Regions from separate parts of the Homo sapiens genome. Here regions 1, 3 and 4 are each linked to region 2. The links come from fine-mapping of genetic effects on gene expression. A gene starts in region 2. Each other region holds a variant in brackets. All regions are shown on one strand. Distances are from middle to middle. Region 1 overlaps CRTAC1 (cartilage acidic protein 1). Region 2 holds the start of CRTAC1 (cartilage acidic protein 1). Region 3 overlaps CRTAC1 (cartilage acidic protein 1). Region 4 holds the start of MIR3085 (microRNA 3085).

Evidence for each region. PIP is the estimated chance that this variant, and not a neighbour inherited with it, causes the effect. A credible set is the group of variants that fine-mapping cannot tell apart.
Region 1: its variant is the best candidate, but not a certain one, in a credible set for the expression of CRTAC1 in sun-exposed skin (GTEx, PIP 0.55).
Region 3: its variant is the best candidate, but not a certain one, in a credible set for the expression of CRTAC1 in tibial artery (GTEx, PIP 0.53).
Region 4: its variant is the best candidate, but not a certain one, in a credible set for the expression of CRTAC1 in unexposed skin (GTEx, PIP 0.78).

Annotation. Positions count from the first base shown.
Region 1 is chr10:97,965,438-97,970,583 of GRCh38, reverse strand. The region is part of intron 2 of CRTAC1 (cartilage acidic protein 1); the gene reads left to right. Among named protein-coding and RNA genes, the nearest start is that of CRTAC1, 63 kb to the left of the region's middle. The variant C/T (reference allele first, on the strand shown) is at 2,645.
Region 2 is chr10:98,028,676-98,033,821 of GRCh38, reverse strand. It overlaps CRTAC1 (cartilage acidic protein 1), which reads left to right and starts at 3,201. Exons shown (of 15, transcript NM_018058.7): 1 at 3,201-3,373. The coding sequence starts at 3,350.
Region 3 is chr10:97,880,270-97,885,415 of GRCh38, reverse strand. It overlaps CRTAC1 (cartilage acidic protein 1), which reads left to right. Exons shown (of 15, transcript NM_018058.7): 12 at 1,065-1,210; 13 at 2,588-2,630; 14 at 5,024-5,146. Among named protein-coding and RNA genes, the nearest start is that of MIR3085, 6.9 kb to the right of the region's middle. RefSeq lists a silencer at 2,630-2,924 and an enhancer at 2,213-3,412. The variant A/C (reference allele first, on the strand shown) is at 2,780.
Region 4 is chr10:97,872,956-97,878,101 of GRCh38, reverse strand. The region is part of intron 14 of CRTAC1 (cartilage acidic protein 1); the gene reads left to right. MIR3085 (microRNA 3085) reads left to right here and starts at 2,205; the gene lies at 2,205-2,289. RefSeq lists an enhancer at 1,778-2,278. The variant A/G (reference allele first, on the strand shown) is at 2,082.

The DNA of each region.
Region 1 (5,146 bases), 63 kb after region 2:
AGCCCTGTGGTTAGCTGGGGAGAGCTGGCCTGAGGCAGGAACACGGTAGCCTTCTCTGCTGGAGCAGAGTGAGGAAGCAGAGAGGAGTGACAAATAAGAACTGAGTGCAGCCACAGCAGCAGACCACGCTGGCCCTGAGGACAGGTTGCTCAGTCTGGCTTCTTTCTCTGAGTGAGAAGAAAGCCGTTAGGAGAAGGATTTTGAGCCAAGGGGTGACATGATGCGACTTGCACTTTAAAAGGATGCTCTGATTTTCATGTTGAGAATAGACTGAAGGAAGGAAAGGGGGAAGCTGAGAGCTGTCAGGAAGTTCTTGCAGTAATCCAAATGAAAAATGATGGGCTTAAACCAGAGATTAGCAGAGTGTGAGAAATAACCATGTTCTGTGTATTAATATATTGTAAGGTAGAGCCGACAGGATTTGCCAATAGGAATTGGGTATGGGATGGGAGAGGAATCCAGTTAGACTCGGAGCTTTTGGCCTGAGCACCTGGAAGCTAGAAGTTGGGAAAGGAAAGACAGCAGGAGTAGGTCTAGAAGAGCTACTGGGAGCTCAGTTTTTGATAAGTTAAGTTTGAAATATCTATTAAACATTCAAGAGCAATGTTGAGTAGGCAGTTGGATATATGAGTCTGGAGTTCAGGGAAGAGGTCTGGGGTGGAGATATAAATTTGAGAGTTGTCAGCGGGTAGATGGTATTTAAAGCCCTGATACTGTGTGAGGTCACCAAGGAGTGAAAATGGATGGGAGAGGAGATACCCAATGACTAAGCCTACTGCCTCCAGCGTCAGCAACCATTTGCACCCTTTGCTGTGGTTTTGGCATTTTGAGGGTTACCAAGCTGGGAGTAGGTCTGGGTGGGGAGATAAGGCATGATCAGATCTGTGTTTCTGATCAATGGCTCTGTGGGGTCGTCCATGGTCTATCTCATCACTCCTGAGCGTGGAGGGATTATAAGAGCTTCCTATCTGAGGTCCCCAGCAGGCAATGGTTAATGTCTCAGATTTCCATGGTTACATTTGTCCAAAGATCAGCTAACTTTTAATCTCAAGAGTCATCATCAACAAGCAAAGCACATTGGCAGCCCTTTGATATTGACAGGGAAAAATGCAGACTTGGGAGAAAGAGAGGAGGAGAAAGAGAAAGGAAGGGCAAGGGGCCCAAAGGAAGGCTCGGGCTGGAGTGGCTGCCCTGTCCCCACAGGCTGGCTCCTTCTTTACAGTAGTGATTGTCAAGGGGCTGGGAGGGGATGGAGCATCAAAACACCTGAGAGCTTTGCCAATCTACTCTTCCCTGGCTCCCAAGTCCCCTGACCCCAGGAATTCTAGAAGCTCCTCCTCCCCCAGTTGAGAAGCCTCACTTTCAAGGGTGAATACACTCTTGGATTGGAGCTGGGATGGTACAGGCATCGTTGGCCAAAAAAGGTGCCTATCAACATGTGACTTCTGCTGCTGCTTGAAGACATATCAGTGTTAAGAAGGGAGTGACCATATAATTTGTCACCCAAATGAGGGCACTTTTGACATGGGGGGGAAAGGAAAGCAAACCAACTGAGACTGTCCTGGGCAAACTCTGGTATTAAGACCACCAGCAGAGCTCCAAATGTGACTGAGAAATTCCAGTATCAGCATCACCTAGAGATATGGTTTTAAAAATAAATCTCTGAGCTCATCTCCAGATGTACTGGCTCAAAATCTTTGGGGATAGGACCCACGGTCTGCATTTTTAGTGAGCACCCGCTAGTGTAGGAATTCTCTCTTTGTCCCATCATCTCTATTCCTTCCGCAAGAGGTGATTCATGGTCTTTTCAGACAAGGCTTCAGGAAGAAGGAAGAGCTGCTGGTTGAGAAAGATCATTTCTCCTGCAGTAGGGTGGCCATCCTATTTCTAACATGTCCTAAAGCTGGGGCGGCACTGCCTTCCTGGGGAATTCAGCCTTGCTGTGTGTTCAGGACAGTCAATTCCTTATTTCCTTCTCAGACTCTGGCCTGCCCCATTTACCCCGACTAGATCCTGGGCTGCTGCAGTAAAATATAAAGAATTGCAAGCTGGGCGTGGTGGCTCACACCTGTAATCCCAGCACTTTGGGAGGCGGGCAGATCACAAGGTCAGGAGATTGAGACCATCCTGGCTAACACGGTGAAACCCCATCTCTACTAAAGATACAAAAAAAATTAGCCAGGCATGGTGGCACGTGCCTGAAATCCCAGCTACTTGGGTGGCTGAGGCAGGAGAATCGCTTGAACCTGGGAGGTGGAGGTTGCAGTGAGCCAAAATAGTGCCACTGCACTCCAGCCTAAGCGACAGAGCGAGACTCTGCCTCAAAAAAACAAAAACAAAAAGAATTGCTCCTCTGTGCACACCCAGGACCTTAAGGGAGCAGCAGAATTACTTCCTCAGATGTCAACACCTTGGCAAGTGTCCTTCCCACAAGCCAGCATCGTTCCCCTTTCATAATCCATTCTGGCTCTGTCATCTGTGAATTTAAAACCTTTTTGAGCTTCATTTATTTTTTAAGCCTGTTTTCTCTTCTTTGGATTGCAAATCCCATAAATTTCCTACCTGTTGAATGGTGTATCCTTTATTTGTCTAAATGCCAGCTCTTTCTCCTTGCCCAGATCTCAGACTCCTGAAAGACGGAAGA[C/T]AAAGAATGCCCCCGGGAAGCCATGTGTACCTTGGATGTACCTTTCCTTATATGGCACTTCTGTTTCAACAATCACTGGGTTGAAAGGGACCTTGAGTATAGTTAAATGGAATTTTTCCAATTCTACCCATCAGACCCCTCCTTTCCTTATTTCTTCCCAATCTGCTTAATACACTCAGTGAGGGAGCACTTACTACTTCCAGAAGCAACCAGATCCAACTTTGCAGAATGTTTTTTTTTAATGTTGTTTAAAAATCAGTCTCCCCTAAGATAGGATGATTCATGTGGTAATGGATTAGAGTTGGAGACAGTGTGAACATAATATAGATACAGATGGTTACATATAGAAATATTTATAGATAAATGTCTATACATGGGTTAGTATACACACATATATTTCCTTGATCTGTCATCTCAGAGGCCCTAGAAGCAACTCACACTCCAGTATCAACAAGCACACCTAGCCCCCAGATCTTGGTTTCTAATACCATTCTCCAGCAAAAGGAAACAAGGTTCCTTGGAGAAATGGCTGATTCTAGGAATGGGACAAGAAATATACAAAGTGAGCCTGGAGCATCTGGTAGTGCAGACAGTAAGGAGGTGCTTGAAAAGCCGCCATGATGGGATGAATCAAAGAGACAGAGGAGCTAACTGAAAGAGCTCCCAATGGCTAAAGCTGCAGCAATTTGAGCAACAACATAAATAAAGTTGTATTGGATTATAACCTAAAGTACAAATAAATATCAATGAAGCTATACTGATATAAATAAATGATTGTATAAATAAATAAATGAGGGAGAATAGACAAATCTCCCAGATAGAAGAATTCCAAATAATTGATGTCGATACACCACCCCAGAGGAGCTGAAGCAAAACTCCCTACTCCTGCGTAGGTGCCGCATAGTGACTTCCTTCTGAAGCATGTAGGATGTCGGGGGGGGGGGGGTGACTTTACAATGGAGAAACACAGCAAACACAGCTTCAGCCAGGTGATCAAGGTCAACATCAGCAGGGACAAGTCATGTTGAGAGTGTGTGCCCTGGTTATGATGAGATGAAAATGGCACGGTGCTTCTGTGGTCTTCCTCCCAAAAACCCACTAACCCCAGTCTAACCCTGAGAAAAACATCAGACAAATCCCACTGAGGGACATTCTGCAAAAATACCTGACCAGTACCCCTCAAAGCTGTCCAGGTCATCAAGACCAAGGAAAGTGAGAAACTGTCATGGCGAAGAGGAGCTAAAGAGCTATGACAATTAAATGTAACGTGGTATCCTAGGTGGGATCCTGGAACAGAAAAGGGACATTAGGGGAAAACTAAAGAAATCTGAATGAAGTGTGGATATTAGTAAATAATCATATATTGATACTGGTTCAGTAATTGTGACCCATGTAACATACTAATGTAGGATGTTAATGATAGGGGAAACTGGGCAGGGCATGTGTGGGAACTCACTATACTACCCTTGCAATTTTTCTGTAAACTTAAGACTATCCTAAACTAAAATGTGCACTTAAAAAAGAAAATCAGACTGGACACAGTGGCTCATGCCTCTAATCCCAGCACTGTGGGAGGCTGAGGGGGGCAGACCACTTGAGGCCAGGTGTTCAAGACCAGCCTGGCCAACATGGCAAAACCCGGTCTGTACTAAAAATACAAAAATTAGCTGGTGTAGTGGAGTGGCGCATGCCCGTAATTAGCCACGTATAGTGGCACATGCCTGTAGTGGCTACTCAGGAGGCTGAGGCATGAGAATTGCTTGAACCCAGGAGGTGGAGGTTGCAGTGAGCTGAGATCATGCCACTGCACTCAAGCCTGGGTGATGGAGTGAGACTGTCTCAAAAAAGAAAGAAAATCAGCTTTCCCTACCTATGTAGTGGCCTTGGCTCTATCCTTGGCCTGAGTCAACTCAGAAATGACCTAGAACAGGCCAGCCTTATGTCCCTCCAGGCTGCTCCCAAGTGGCAGCCATCACAATCACCTCTCCCCTGCCCCATCTGTCATCTCCTTTCCAAGTCAGGTATCTCCACCTCCATCAGAACCTCTGAATCCTGCTTTCAGCTTCTCTCACTGACTAGACCACCCTTCTTCAGTCACAGCTCAGTTCGACAACTGCCTGCCCCAGTTCACTGAGGAGCCCAGAATTGAACATGACACTCTGAGCATGGCTGCACAGCCCAGGGAAAAGCAGGCCTGTCACTTCCTTCAGTTCATTACACATGTCTCTATTAATATAGCCCATAGAGGCTAAAATGACTTTACTTTAGGGAGCAGCCACCTCACATGAGTATCTCCAACTCAACTATCCAGTTTAAAAAAAAAAACAACAACTCCATTACAATCAGTATAGAGAATAACTTTCCACAAAGTAGGAGCTTACCAAAAAAGAAGAAAGAAAGAAAGAAAAAGCAAAGGGTTGCCTCTGGCGGTAGTAAGTGTTCCAACATTGGGAGTATTCAAGTACATCTGGCAGCTACAAAAGAAAGGGGAGATTTCATGGG
Region 2 (5,146 bases):
GGAGCCTGAACAAGATGCATGGGGTAAGGGTGTGCTGAAAATGTGTGTATTAGTCAGCTCAGACTGCCATAGCCAATACCACAGACGTGGAGCTTAACCACAGAAGTTAATGTTCTCACAGTTCTGGAGCCTGGAAGTCCCAGATCAAGGTGCTGGCAGGTCTGGTTTCTGCAGAGGCCCTGCTCCTGGCTTGCAGATGGCCTCCTCCTGTTACTCAGGCAGGCTTTCTCCTGAGGATGCACAGAGAGAAATGGGAGATCTCTGGTATCTCTCTCTCTTCTTACGAGGACACTAGTCCTATTGAATTAGGGTCCACCCTTATGATCTCATTTTGCCTTAATTGCCCCTTTAAAGGCCTTATCTCCAAATGCAGTCACACTAAGGGTTAGGGCTTCACTATGTGAATTTGGTCCGGAGAGGCACAATTCAGTCTATAACCGTGTGCATGTGCCTCAAGAAAGCTGTGTTTGGGCAATGTGGGAGGACAAGAGGTCTCTCACGGGATTGGGGGTGGGGAAGGGCTGGAGCTCTGAGCAGACACTGACATGAACTGAGCAAATGGACATCGAGGACATCAGAGAAATGAGAAATTTTCCAACCAGGACTGCCTGGCCCACTGGGCTAAACCCTCACAAGTTCAAGTGCTGAAGCCAGATTGTATTCCCTGGAGCACTTCCTGGCTGGAACATCTCCATCATTTCCTGCATTTTTCTGTCCTTCCCTAGCACCTTTGGTCTGTTGTAACCTTACCTGGCTAGCTGCAGGAAAGTGTGAGATTATTACAGAGTTATTTTGCACAGAGCACCTATTCACATCTGGTTGGCTAATGCTGATAATTACCGTGCTGGTTACTAAATCTGTCGGGTCTGGGTGAGGTGAGGCGCTACAGCTGGGGCTGCTGTGCACAGCTTCACCGGAGAAGAGAGAGGTGAGAACAAAAACCAAGAAAGGTGTGCTCAGATGTTTGGGATTGAGTGAAACTGGTTAATTACCAGTCACTTGCTGTCTCCCTGAGTTGGAGTTTCTGGCTAAGGAATGCTCATAGATCAGACATAATATGACAACCTGCAACTTATTTCCACATTAAGAGGGTGGCGGGGACCAAGATGCAGAGAAAGTGTGGAGACAGTCTCTCAGGTGCCAGAGCCTTGGCCAGATGACTCAGATGCCCTCAGAACAAGGTGGTGGCATGTTCCAGCAGGGTGCAGAGCCAACTGGACTCCTTATGCAGAGAGCTGGGGATCAGATATGGCCTTGGGGGCAGAGTCTATTTGCCGATAGATGAAGGTTCTTAATCAGGGCCCTAGATTAAGTTTTAATGATCCACGAACCCTCCTAAAGTTGCATGTCAACATGTGTGTATGTGAGTGAGCATTTTTATAAGCAACAGATCCATAACATTTATGAGATTCTTGAAAGGTTCTAAAGGGTCTGTGATCCCCAAAAGGAGGGTGATTATAAACTACTGTCCTAGACCCCTGAAGAAACAGGTTGACATTGGACCGAGCCCCAAGAGACTCAGGGTTCCTAATGATCCTGAAAGTATACTCAAGGTGTGTGTGTGTGTGTGTGTGTGTGTGTGTGTGTGTGTGTGTGTAAATGTGTGTGTTTGTATATTTTTCTAGAAAAATGATTCAGTAATTTTTGCCAGATTTTCAAAGGGGCCCACAACCTTACAGGCTTGATGGGGGCTCAAAAAGCCAGAAAGTTTGTCTGTGCCTAGCTATTTCTTTTCAGAGGAAGATCACAGAGACCTGAAAACAGAGCCCAGACTAGGTCCTGGTAGTTCTGCTCAAAATCTGTGGATAACAGGGGCCAGAGGCTGGATGTGTGGCCCTCTATAAAAGAACACATTCAAATCATTCTAAGAGTCAAGGGCCCAGAAGCCAGACTAGTGGGTGATGGTCACAAAAGCGTCAACGGATGGGAAAACAGTCCTAGCTCCTTCCCTCTCCGATGGTGGATTCCCAAGTCTTTCTCTTCTGTGGCCCCTTTACCTGGCTTTCAGAAACCCAAAGACCTCACTCATGGAAGCTCAGAATTCATTCAATAAACACTGAGCGCCTACTATGTGCCAGGCTCTATTCTAGGCGTAAAATAAAGGATTTGCCTTCAGAGTGTGACCCACCAAGGCCAGTTTCCTGCCTGAACAGGGGTATTTTGAGCATTGCTGATCAAGTGTGTTTTTCTGGCGCTTAGCACCCCCATTCCCCTGGTCCAGAGAGGCAGAAACCATCCCCCCACCACCACCAAGGCAGCGGGTTGGGGGCGAGGAGAGGCGGGCAGTACCTGTGATCAAAGCGGTGAGGGAGGCTAGTAGGACGCAGGCGGCAGGAGCGGGTGGGCCAGGCCCGACTCGGCCACTGCTGGGGTAGGGACTAGGTGGGATGGGGTGGGGGCACTGCTGGTGGGGACGGGGTGGGGTAGAAGCGGCGCTGCCCGCAGCCGCCTGGGCCTCTGCGCGCCTGATCTCCGAGCTGCGCTCGCCCGCTCCCCGCCTGCGGGGGCCGTCGCGGAGCCCTGCTCTCCATACTGAGCAGTCCCCGGGAGGTGCTCGGACACGTCCCCAGGCTGGATAAAGATCGGCTCGGCTCTAGCTCCGTAGTCGAAATCTCGCCATCAGCGCGGCTCGCTCGGCCGCTTTGGCCCGGCCCGGCGACGCCAGATCGCTATCCTGGGGGGAAATGGGAAGGCAGTGCAGCCGCTCCCGCCTCCACCCTCGGTCCTGCGCGCAGGGGTGGCCGCGGGGTCCTGGGGCTCGCCGCCCTCCCCTCCCCCTTCGCGTTCCTTCCCTGCGCTGCCTCCCGAGGGACCCTCGCTTCCCTCCGGCCTGGGGCCCCCAGCGCCCAGCCAGGCGCCCTCTCCCCTCCTCGCCAGGCCTCGCTGCCGCCTGAAGGTTACGCGACGCAGTGGCGGGGCGCGGGGGGCGCCCGCCCTCGCCGCCGCCTTCGCCGCCGCCCACCCCAGTGGCCGCCGCGCCGCGCCGGGCCAGCCTGGCTGCCGGCTGCTGCCACCGCAATCCCGGCTCCTAAATCAGCGCGGGGAGGCGCTCCCTCCCCACGCCCGGCTCTCCGGGCTCTCGGGGCCGCGATTGGCCGCGCCGGCGCCCCCCACCCCGGGCCCCCGGCTCCAGCTGCCGCGCCATTGGCTGCGGGCCTCCGCCAGCCTTTACATAAGACCGGGCGCGCTCGAGTGGAGTTGTATAAAGCGAGCGCGCGGCGTCGGGGCGGGAGGCTCGAGGCCAGCCCGGGACCGGGGCTGGGAGCAAGCAGGCGGCGGCGCCGGCGGCAGAGGCGGCAGCGAGCGCCCGCTTCCCACGCCCCTAGGCGGCGGGGCCGAGAGCGGGAGGATGGCTCCGAGCGCTGACCCCGGCGTGAGTATCTGCACCGGTGCCCCCCACCCTAAGGCGGAGAAAGTTTCTCCAGCTCTGCGCGCCCCCCCGGATCCGCCCGCAAGGGTGGCGGGGACGCCGCCCGGGAACCCGGGAAGACTGGGATCGCGAAGGCGGCGGCTTCGCTCCTAACTTGCTGGGAGGCGCTGGACTCGATTGGCGCGCGGAGCCTCCCCCGCGGGCTGGGGGTGAGGCGGCGGCCGGGTTGGAGGTGGCGGAGAGGTGGGAGCTGATGTGTGGGGGCGACAGCCAGCAGCTGGCAGAGAAAGTGTTGGGGGCGCACTGGAGGTCAGCTGTCAGGGGAGGGGGCCTCTGGGGCCTGGAGGGGGCGGAGCGGGTGAGGAGGGATGTGCCGGGCTATCGGGAGAGTCTCCCAGTCAGCCAGGCTGAGACCCGGGCCTGGGAAGCCACTGGCCTCGGCCGAGTGCCTACGCTTCCAGGCTGGGGAAGAGCCCCGCGGGCTGGCTCTTCCTCCCCTGGGAAGCCGAGTTCCCGGGCACAGCGCTGGGTGGCAGAGAGCTCCGGGAGCCAGCCCCGCGCGCGGCGTAGCTGCTAGCCGCCTTATGCTGGACGAGGTGTGGTCTTCCCTTCAGGCTGCCTGAGGCAAGCCGGCTTCAGGCATTCCAGGGGAACCCTGAGTCCTCCTCGACCCCGTGGGGGCACTTGGAGGCTTTGATGGGGCAGCCAGGCCGGGCTTGGGGGCATGCCCAGCAATGCAGCGCGCTTCTTTGCAGTACAGTAGTTGGGAGCCCTGGTTAGTCCCGCTTCTGCAGAAAGCAACTCAAGAATCCAAAGTCATCCCAGCCTGGATGGAAGCCTCCCAGAGTGGCGGGGAAATTCTCCTAGGGTTGAGAGCTGGGGGGGCTTCCTCCAGGAATGACTAATGAATATTGCTGCTGCTGCCGCCGCCGCCGCCGCCGCCGCCGCCGCCGCCGCCGCTGCTGCTGCTGGTGGGTGCACCCAGTGTGGCTTCTGCACATCCCAGGAGATGCTTCCGTTCTCCTGACAGGACACATTCTTGAGTTGCACTTGAGGTGTCTTCTGGGATGGGTGCAGGACTTTCCACGTGAAGCCAAGTGGAAAAGAAGGGAAGAGGGTCCCAGGACAGGGGACAGTTCTATAGTGTTTTCTTGAGTCAGGGGAGAACTCATGTGGGAAGAGATAAGCGATTGACGGAGATTTGGAACCCAGACGACTTGGGGCTGGAGATGTCCAAGACTGAATTAGAGCTCATTGAGAGTCACAGAGTACCTCACCCTCAGCCATGGGGGAGAGGTGGAGGCTGGAAAAGTGGGAACATGGTGGCTGTTCCAGCATGGTTCTTGAGAAAATGTTCTCTCTCTCTCTCTGACTTGGTTAAGAACATCCTTCTGGCAGTAGGTCCTAAAGTCAATTTAAGAGGTAATGAAGGGAGTTGAGGGTCTTGATGATGGCACAGAGGACCACAATTAGAACATTTCCATTTCCGGTGGGTACTAATGGACTCTGGAAAAGGTCGAAACGGTGTGTAGGGAGTCTGGGGAACCTGCTCTGTGGCTGCTCATTTGAGCCTGAATCCTCCACCTTATCCCATCCCTGAATGTAGGTGGATGTTCAAACTCCTAGGGTACCTGCTTCAGCCTGGAGATATTTTATGGGTGCTATCAATCTATATCCCAACCCCCAGCTCCATCGTTGTCTGCTGCAGTCAACATTTTTCTGCTGCATTTCCCAAGACCTTCTCTCCACTGGGGATTTGTGCAGCGAAATACCTGC
Region 3 (5,146 bases), 150 kb after region 2:
CTTTCTCCCCTGTCCTCCACCTGCCATCTCTTTATCACTCCATCTTTTCTAAGTTGTTTTTTGTTTGTTTTTATTTTTTTCAGAAACAGGGTCTCACTATGTTGCCCAGGCTGGCCTTGAAGTCCTGGGCTCAGCCAATACTTCTGCCTCATCCTCCTGAGTAGCTGGGATTCCAGGCATGAGCCACCATGCCCAGCTCTTTTTCCAAGTTATTATGTAGAGCTCAGTGCAAATGCCGCCTCCCTAAGAGGCTGTCCCTGACCACCTGACTAGACAAGGCCCTGGCAACCCCCAGCTCCTCCTTACCTACTTGCCCTACTTTTGTCAATATCTGGCATTATTTATTTGTTCATCTGTTTGCTTGTCTCCCCAACTGGACTGGGAACTCCATGAGAACAGGGGCATCCCCAGTGACAAGAGAGAGCCTGGCCCTTAGCAGAGCTCAATAAATAGAAACACAAGAAGCATTCCTGGGATAACAAAGCCAGTTAGCTGCACAGCTGGGATTTGTCCCCAGGTCTCCCACCCACTTCCCACCATGCTCTTTCCAACATACCAGGTAAGGGGTAGAGCCATGATTTGAATGCCAGACTCCAAAGACAACCTGCTTATCACAGGCCTTACTGTATCCTCCAGTACAGCCTCCTGATGCTTGGCCTGTCTGCTAGAACGTGAGTTCAAGAGCTGCACTATCCAACATGGCAGCCACCAGCCATGTGTGGCCATTAAATTTAAATTAATTAGAGTTAAATAAAATTGAAAATTCACCTCTTCAATCACGTGAGTCCCACTTCAAGTGCTCAACAGCCACATGTTACCAGTGGCTACTGTACTGGACAGCACAGATGCAGGACATTTCTGTCCTTGCAGACAGACAGGTCTATTGGACAGCATTGCTCCAGAGAGGAGGGACCTCAAATCTGTCTTGTTCACCATTTCCCTAGCACTTAGAACAGTGCTCAATTCATGCTTTTATTCAATGGATGAATTAGTTGATGCTGATGCTTCCGCTGAGAGCCTCCTGCTCTCCTCTGCTGCTGATGCTCTCTCCTTCTGCCCCTCAGGGAAGGATGAAGCCAGCAGTGTGGAGGTGACGTGGCCAGATGGCAAGATGGTGAGCCGGAACGTGGCCAGCGGGGAGATGAACTCAGTGCTGGAGATCCTCTACCCCCGGGATGAGGACACACTTCAGGACCCAGCCCCACTGGAGGTGGGCAAAGGCATCTGGGCCTCATAGCCAGAAAAGCGGGCACCACCCACAACCCCATGGGCTGAAGCTGGGTTCCCAGGAATCTGCAAACTCAGCCTCTAGAGTGATGGAAATCTTGGCAAAGCGAAGGCTTCATACTGATCCCTCCATTTGTAGTTTGCACAACACTATCACACCCACATCTCTTCTGCTTCTCAAAGAATCCCTGGTGTATTGGCAGGGCAAGCATTTTTGCACCCATTTTACAGAGGAAGAAAACTGAGGTTAAGAGAGGAAATCCACCAAGGCCCACCAAGGCTGTACAGCCAGTTGTGAGCAAAGTTTTAAAATGACCCCAGGTCTGTTGCTGCCCTCCTGGTTCTTTCTGAGTCTCTGACAAGACCTCCTATTGCCCTAGGGTGGGGCTCAGAGCCTGCACCAGGTTTTCTGGAGGCTCTTTGAGGAGCAGCTCTGGACCCATCTCAGCAGTGTCGTTCCAACTCTGATGGGGTTCACTTGGTGGCGATTAACAGGAACCCACTGAAACTGACACAAATGAAGGGGGCTTATAAGGAGGATCACTCATAAAACTCAGGGAAGCTCAGGATGAGTAGAAACTGGCAGCTTGATGGCCTCAGCCCTAGGAGCTCAAGGACCTTTGTCAGTGCACTGGCTTTGGGAGGAGAGGGGCCCCTCTTCCCCAACAATCCCCATCCACCCACCTCATTCATCAGTACGGTTGATTGACATTTTGTGTCATGTGTGTTACGTTTTTAGTCCCCTGCCCCACCCCAGGCTGCTGTCTCTGAGACCCCCATATGGGCATGGTAGAGCCTCCACAGCCTGGCAGGGCCGGCTCCCAACTCTTAAGTCTCTGAGTCAATTTGTTCAAATTCTTGCTGCAAAGCCTTGAGTCTTCCCTCCTGCTAGGATGTCCACCCATCAGCCCTGGCCAGAGAGGTGGGACACAAGCATGGCTGCAGGCACCCACCCGTGTGAGGGAGAGGTTCTTGGAGAAGTGAATGTGGGCAGTGAGCAGACACCTCAAAAAGCATCTCCCAGCCCTCATTACACTTTGCCCTGACAGACCCAGCCTCAGTCACAGGGTGATGCTACAGAAGGGACAGGTTCTGTTAGACGTCCCAGCTCGTGTGGATCCTTTGCACAGGGAAATGAGCAAGAGTCTGAACCGTATCCATTCATGGCCTTCCCGCCAGCCTTCTGTTCTCAGCGCAAAGGAAGGGTCTTACAAGGGAGGGGGCTCCCCCCAGGCCCAGAGCTCAGAGCATGCCTCACACTGTGGTTAGGGTGACAACTACTCTGTGGCTGTGACTAGGAGGGAACCTGGGATGGGACCTTCTCAACTCACTCATGTCTCTGCTTCTGCCCACCTTACAGTGTGGCCAAGGATTCTCCCAGCAGGAAAATGGCCATTGCATGGGTGAGTTGCCTTCAGTCACCAGGGCATGGGGTAGAGGCCGGAATCTCCCTGGGGAATGCCCGCCTGACTCATGCCAAGGTCCAGGGTGCAAGCAAGGGGCAGAAAGGAGGACAGGGGAGGGTGTTGTTTGTCCTGGGACTCCAGATGCC[A/C]AGACAACCACCACATGACTCACCAGGGTGGGAGTGATATTAGTGACCCACAGGCTGAATCACTGCGGTTCTGGAAACTGGCAGTGTTTTCCTGCCATGAGTACCGAGAAACTGCAGATGGGAAGGAGACACACCACCAACCTGGCACAGGGGGAATAGCCACATGCCATGGCCAGCAAGTCCATGTGGAGCAGCAAGCAAGGGGGCTGGCAGGCAAGGGTGTGCATTGCCAAGGGCATTGGGGCAAAATAGTGTATGGAGTGTGGTCACAGTGTGGAACGGAGACTGCAGCCTGGTGCAGTACTGGGGCAGGCAGGTAGCTGCAGCACTACCAGGATGGCAGCTCCTTGACGGTCCAAGAACCTTCTGAAAGTCCCCAAGAGCCTGGAATGGGAAGGGGCAGCCTAGAAGTTCAGTGTCCAGGAGACCTTCACCCCCAACACTTTCCATCCCAGTGACCAGCAAGGAGGGGTCAGGCCAAGGATCCCTCCTTCCTTGAACCCTCATCCAGCATTCTTCCCAAGTCTACTCTGCAGCTGCTCATTAACCCTTTGCTACTGAGATACAGGAGTAAACAAGACAGATACCACTCTCAGGAGCTGAAAACCAATGGAGAGCCACAAAAGTAAACAGCTGTCGACCACACAGTGTGATCAGGGCCCAGATGGGGGAGGGCAGGGGCTTGGAGATGACAAAGCAGGGGCCCTAAACCAGCCTAGGGAGGGTCCTAGAAGGTGCCCTAGAGAAAGTGAGGTCCAAGCTGGGCCCTGAGGAATGAGGAGCAGTTCGGCAGTCACAGAGAGGGGAGACATGGTTCTGGTGGGGGGCACTGTCTGAACAAAGGAGCACAGGTGGGGAGGTGGAGGAGCAGTGGTGCCAAGGGTGGCTGGAGGAGGAAATGACTCCCCTACACTCTCCACATGCCCACCCAGCCCCACTCCAAACACATAGTGCAGGTGCATAGAAATTCCAGAGTCTTCTCTGCCTGCAGGAAGGACCCTTTGAGATCAGCCTCCTCTTCCTTTTCATCGCCCAACAGGCAGTTATGTGCCTCGTACACAGCAAGTGTCATGCTGGGAGCTGGGGATGTAGGCCAAGTGCCACCCCCGCGCCTCCACAAGAGGGGCATCCATTCTAGTGGAGGGAGACAGACCCTGAACGCATGACCACACACCTGGACAAGATGATTTCAGAACCCTCTGAGCAAGGTGCTCCCTGGAGACTGTTCCAGAGAGAGTGGTCAGGGAGGGCCTCGGGGGGAAGACTCTGAGCTGAGACCTGAAGGATGAGAAGGATCTAGGCCCAGAAAGAGTTGAGGGAAGGGCAGGAGTGAAAAGCGGGAGACAGGACAAAGGCTTTGTGTGTTGAAGGAGCAGGAGGGATGCCAGTATGGCCTGGAGATGATGGAGAGTCCATGAGGCCCCTGTAGGGAGTCTGAATTTTGCTCTTAGGAGCCTTAGAAGCTAAACTGGGGAGTGACATGATGTGATTCACATTTTTAAAGGCTCCCTCCAGCTGCTGAATTGCAGAGTGGATTGGAGGGAAGAGGGGAAGCCAGGTATTCTGTGAGGAGGCAGCTGCAGAAATCCAGGCAAGAGGTCACGATGGCAGGAAATTGGGTGGTGGCAGAGGAATGAGAAAGAGGTGACAGAGAGAGGTGGACTGGTGGACTGCGGGGCAGAGTGGACAGGCTCTGCTGTGAAATTGCACAGGGGGCAAGAAAGACGGAGAAATCAGGGGTCGCTCTGATTTCCCCTTGAGCAGCTGATTGATGATGGGGGTGTTGATTGAGCTAGAGAAGACAGAACAGAGGGCCAGAATATGGGCAGGGCAGGGCAGAATCTGGAGTTCTATTTTGGACATATTAAGCATGAGGTGCATCTTAGACATCCAAGTGGAGCTGTCAAGTAGGTCATGGGTTATTGTATTCGTGAGTCTGGAGCCACGGGGAGAGGTTGTGACTGGAGATAGAACTTTCGGAATCATCCATGCATGAAGAGATCACCTAGAACGATTGTAGTAGACAGAAGAGAGGACCCAGGACCAAGCCTGAGTGCCCACCCCCTGCCCCCAGCATGTAGAGACCAAGTACAGGAGGAGCCAGCCAAGGGAACTGAAGCAGGGAAACTGAGGCTCTGCGAGGAAGGCACATTCCCAAAGCCAGACAGTGTATAGGCAGGCAGAGCCTGGGCTGGTACTTGCTGCCCCACACCTTCATGGTGAGTGGTTCCCCTCGCCTTGCAGACACCAATGAATGCATCCAGTTCCCATTCGTGTGCCCTCGAGACAAGCCCGTATGTGTCAACACCTATGGAAGCTACAGGTGCCGGACCAACAAGAAGTGCAGTCGGGGCTACGAGCCCAACG
Region 4 (5,146 bases), 160 kb after region 2:
GGCAGCTCTGTCACTGTTCAGACTATTCCCTAGTCCTTCTGGAAGCTGCTGCCTTTTAAAAAATGAACAAAGTGGATCTAAGATAGTGAGATAAGTAAAACCCAAAACCCATGGAGGAATGGTTCCAAATGCAGTGGTAAATGACAAGATAACAGAGCCCATTGACTGTCCATACACAACAGCACAAGAAATAAGGGACAAGACAACTACAGAGATGGCCTGCCAAGGACATCAGGGGGTTCAGGGTGACAGCAGACTTCAGATGATGCCTTATAAGTGACAACCATGAATGCCTTCACAATGAGTTTTATATAACAGGGTATATCTGTGTCATGTGATCCTGTTGGGTGAGTGGGGTCCAGTGAGTTGCAAAGAGGAGTTCTAAGTTCCCACAGCTGATAAGAGCACCACTGCAGCACTCAGACTCCAGGATAAGGCTTCCATTTGATTCATTCATGAGTTCAACAGATACTGATTGAGCACCTACAATGTGCCAAATATTTGGTTAGGCTCTAGGCGTACAATGGTAAATGAAGGTAACAATGGTAAGTAAAAGTAATATGTGTTGATCCCCTACTACTATGTGCAGGTACTGAGCTAGGCTCTAGGCATACAATGGTAAGTGAAAGCAATATTTGTTGAGCCCCTACTGTGTGCCCAGTACTGAGCTAGGCTCTAGGCATACAATGGTAAGTGAAAGTAATATTTGTTGAGCACCTATTATGTGCCAGGTACTGAGCTACGCTCTAGGTATGTAATGGTAAGTGAAGGTAACATTGTTGCCACCCCTACGCTGCCTTCCCTCCAGCCAGATAGAGGAGCCAAGTGCATGGGATGGGAGTGGGACACCAAGGGGCTTTCTAAAAAGTTGAGCTGAATTCTCAGGTTGCTATACCAGAAAGCAAGCTCTCTGCATTCATTCATTTACATATTCATTCAGCAAGCATTTATTGAGAATATCCTGTATGACAAGCACTAGGTTCCTCCCATGAGGAATGTGATAGAGACCCTCTAATGAGGTGGACAAGTCCCCTGCCCCCAAGATGCTTGTGTTGCAAGAGATACAAGGCTGAAAGATACAGAGGACAGGTGGATAGTGAACCCACTCAACATTACCTACCCCCTTACCAAAAAAAAAAAAAAAAAAAAAAAAAAACAGAGCCTCCTCATTGAGCTAGCAGTACAGGCTTTTTGAACAGGTGCCTCAAATTCAATGCATCTACTGGTCTGTGCTATACCAGCCACAGATTTGCGGGTGCAAAGCCACCCCCAAGCTACCCAGGCTCAGCATTCCCATTCCCCTCTTTCTTCTAATCCCTTTCTCTGAGACCCGTGGGAGCCCAAACCGTTCCGTCCCCTCCTGCACACAGATAAGTCTGTCTTTTCCCTGTCCCTTAGCCCCACCTAGGCTCCTGACATCTTTGTTGCCTTATGCTACACTTTAATTTGTAACAAAAATAACAAATGCCTTTAGGGGCAGTCAAGTAATGAAATGGACCCGGAAGGGATTATGCAAATGGAGGAGCTGGTGCCCCACCTGCCTGCACCAGGCAGCCACAACTCACTCCAGTGGGAAGGTGGGCCAGTGCTGCCACAAAAATGCTCCCCATTTTTCAACAAAAAAGAAATAATAAGAATAATACCATTTTTATTCTGCTCAAGAATACTCCCTCTTCACAGGCACATACCCCTTAAAATGACAATAATAGCTTACATTTAGTGGGCTTGGCGTGTCTGGGTTGAATCTAAACTCTTTACAATAATCAACTCGTTTAATCCTCATAATAATCTCAAGAGGAAGGTATTGTAATTATCCCACGTTTACAGATAAGCTAAATGGTTTGTGCAGGGTCATACAGCCCAGACAGACGAAGGCAGGACTGGATCCCAGGAGTCTGGCTGTCAGCTGGCACTCTCAACTACCACTCCCTTCTTCATTTGGGATGGTGAATTGGTTTAAGCAAAAGCCACAGTCACTCATGCTGCCCAGGATCAAGAGCAGGATTGGGAGGGGAAAAATGGAGCCCCTGGAGGCCTAGTGATCTGAAATAGTCCTCCCCACGGTCACGTTCAAGTCTGCA[A/G]GAAGAGGTGGCAGTGCTTGCTAATGTCGAGAGTCCCCTCGCCAGGCGGGCTCAGCCAACCTTCACTGAGGCAGAATGGTAAACCATCCACTAGGCCTCTTCAAGCATCTACACGGTTGCCAACCCTACTCTGGGAAGGTGCCATTCTGAGGGCCAGGAGTTTGATTATGTGTCACTCTGGCTGCTATGGCCCCCTCCCAGGGTCTGGGTATCACACCCAGGCCAGTGCCACTGGACCTCGGCCGAAGCAGGAACTCCGCTCCAGACTCCAAGAGCCCCGTGTAGACAGGAAGATGAGCACTTCATTTTTGCAGGGAGCCAGCCAAGTTCTTCCAACAGATTCCAGGCTGAACCTCCACCCAGACTTCCAGCCCAGAAGGCAAACCGAGCCCCTCCCTGCCTCCCTGTGCCCAGGGCCAGTCTTCTCTGAGGCCAGAACCCCAGCCACAGGGGCCAGGAACATGCCAGAAGTTGCTGTTGTGTCTGTAGCAACAGGCATATCCTGGAAGGAAGGCAAGAGAACATGGGCTGGTTAACACCACAGATGACGCCAGCCTCTCCCACGGTGGCTTGTCCTCTAAGGAACTACTGTTGACAGTGAAGTGGTCAAAAAATAGGCCACCAGAGGGAAAATGAGACGCAAGAGAGAAGAAAAACATCCTCCAGGAAAGCAGCTAACATTTATGCAATGCCTGCCATATGCCAAGAACTTTACATCCATGTCTCCATGAATACTCACACCCATCCCAGAATATAAATGTTATGAGTCTATTTTATTACCAGAGAAACTGAGACTCAGAAACAGTAAATTACACAAAGTCACATAGCTAGCTAAAGTGGCAAGAGCTGTAATTCAACCTCATGACTAGCTCCAAAGCCTGGGTTCTTAAGCCTTATGCTGTGCGATCTCTAGGTAACTGACACTGGGGAAGTTATTTAACCAGTTGTTCATGTGATGTACAGTGACTGAACGCCTACTGTGTGCTGGATGTTGTTCTAGTGGCTTGGGATATACATCTGTGAACAACACTGGCAAAGGTCCCTGCCCTAGCAAGACGTGGCAGGCACTAAACAATACCCAGAATAAGGAAAGTCTGTAGCATGTTGGAGCATGATACGTGCTATGGAGGGCTGGAGAAGAGTAACATCAAGGCCATCCGGGAAGGCCCGGATGGAGGTGGAATGCCATTTTAAATAGCGGCGGGGGCAGGGGGGCTCCCTGAGAAAGAGGCATTGAGCAAAGACTTAAAGTAGGTAAGGTGTCTTTGAACCTCAGTTTTCCCATCTGCAAGATGGGGATAATACCTCACAGAGTTATTATATTAGACTTGACATGGTGCCTGGCACATAGAAAGCCCCCAACAAATTAGAGATACTATTATTAAGTAGCCACGTTCAGGATGGAGCCCCGGGCCCGTTCAGTGCCAAAGCTCCTGTGCTTCCCGGTACACCCTGCTGCCACCCAGGACACCTGTGGTGGGAGAGATGGGCAGGACGGGGCCACCTCTGGAGAACTGACAGATTCACCAGAAAAAGATGGCAAATGGCCATAAGGTGCAGAGCCAACCTTCCTGGGGCCTGGGCTGTGCTATGTTCTGCTGAATTCTCATGCAGTGCCATTCCCAGAAAGAATAGTCATAAAACAAAGTGAACTGAGCTAGGCGGGCATGGCATGGACTGGGCCATACAGAGCAGAGGTCACCAGGAGCTAGTGAACTGGCCTGGGAATTTGGCCCTCAACAATCACAGAATCCTAGAGCTTTAAATCCAGGAACACCTGAGAAGTCATCTAGTCCTCTTCCCTCCTTTTCAGACGTGGAAACCAAGGCCCAAAAAGGAGCTGCAACTTTCCCAAGGCATCTGCACCCCCGTCTGGTCCTTTTTCCTGCCGGGTTGCCGGCTGCTCCTCAAAAGAGCTCAGCTCCAGGCTGCTCCCAGCACCCTTCTCCAGAAAGCTCCAGGTATTCCAGAAGCCCAAGTGTATGAACAAGATCAGGAATAAGAGAGGCAGGGCTTATCCTTCCCACTTTGCTGACATGGAAACTGAGTCAGGATACGTGCCCATCAAGTAACAGAAGAACCATACTTGGTCCTTAGAACTCAGCTGGGATTAAATACAGATCTGAATGGGGGTCCCGAGTGCAGAGAGGAGCCTGTTCAGCTGTGAGGAGGGAGGCAGGGTCAGGAGAAGGGTGCGGCAGATGGAGAATCTGTATCACCCGTTCCCAGAACGTCCCGCCCAGAACCTCATGCCCTCAGCCTGCCTGCCAGCAGGAAAGCAGTCTGGGGCCAGAATAATTCCCCTAAAGCTAGCTGGTTCTCCTTCTTCATGGCCAGCCCCAGAGCAGCCAGGAAGGATCTCATCCCCTAGAGTCATTTAATGCACCCTCCCCACAAATCTAAGGGCTAACTTCCCTCCCTCCACCCCAGACCTGGCTGTAGAGCTCCTGGAACAGGAAAAAAGCACATCCTCTTTCCCCAACTGCTTATGGAGACCATGGCAGAAGGACAAGTTTAGGCCAAAGGAAGGAAAGTGAGCCAAACATACACCCTCTCTGCAGTTCAGATCCCCAGACTCAAGGTTTAGAGCCCTCGAAGGCTGACACAGAAGAAAGAGGGAGAAGGAAGCCTGGGGCTGCCCTCGTGTCACCCAGTCATTGGAAAGTCTCAGTGCCTCCTCCCACTGCAGAAGGTGTCTCACATGTGCCAAAATGCCATGTTCGTTCTTAGAGCTGTGCACAAATCCTATGGCCCTCCCCTCTCCCTTCCTTTCAACTGTCCTTAAAATTTTCCCTTCACACTGAAACTCTGGGATCAAATGGACTTGAAATCCAGACCCTCCACCCAGGCATTTGGAAGTGGCCTTAAGAAGTTGTTTCATCTCTGAGCCTCAGTTTCTTCATCCACAAAATAGAGGCAGTGATAAAATCCTCATAGAGTTGTTGTGAGGCTTCCTCGAGCCTATAAGGTACTTGCTGCAGTGCCTGACTGATGAAATGCAGATATTGTCATAAAATCTGTGCCAGGACGTTTAACCTCCTGGTTTCACTTCCAGCAATGCCTGA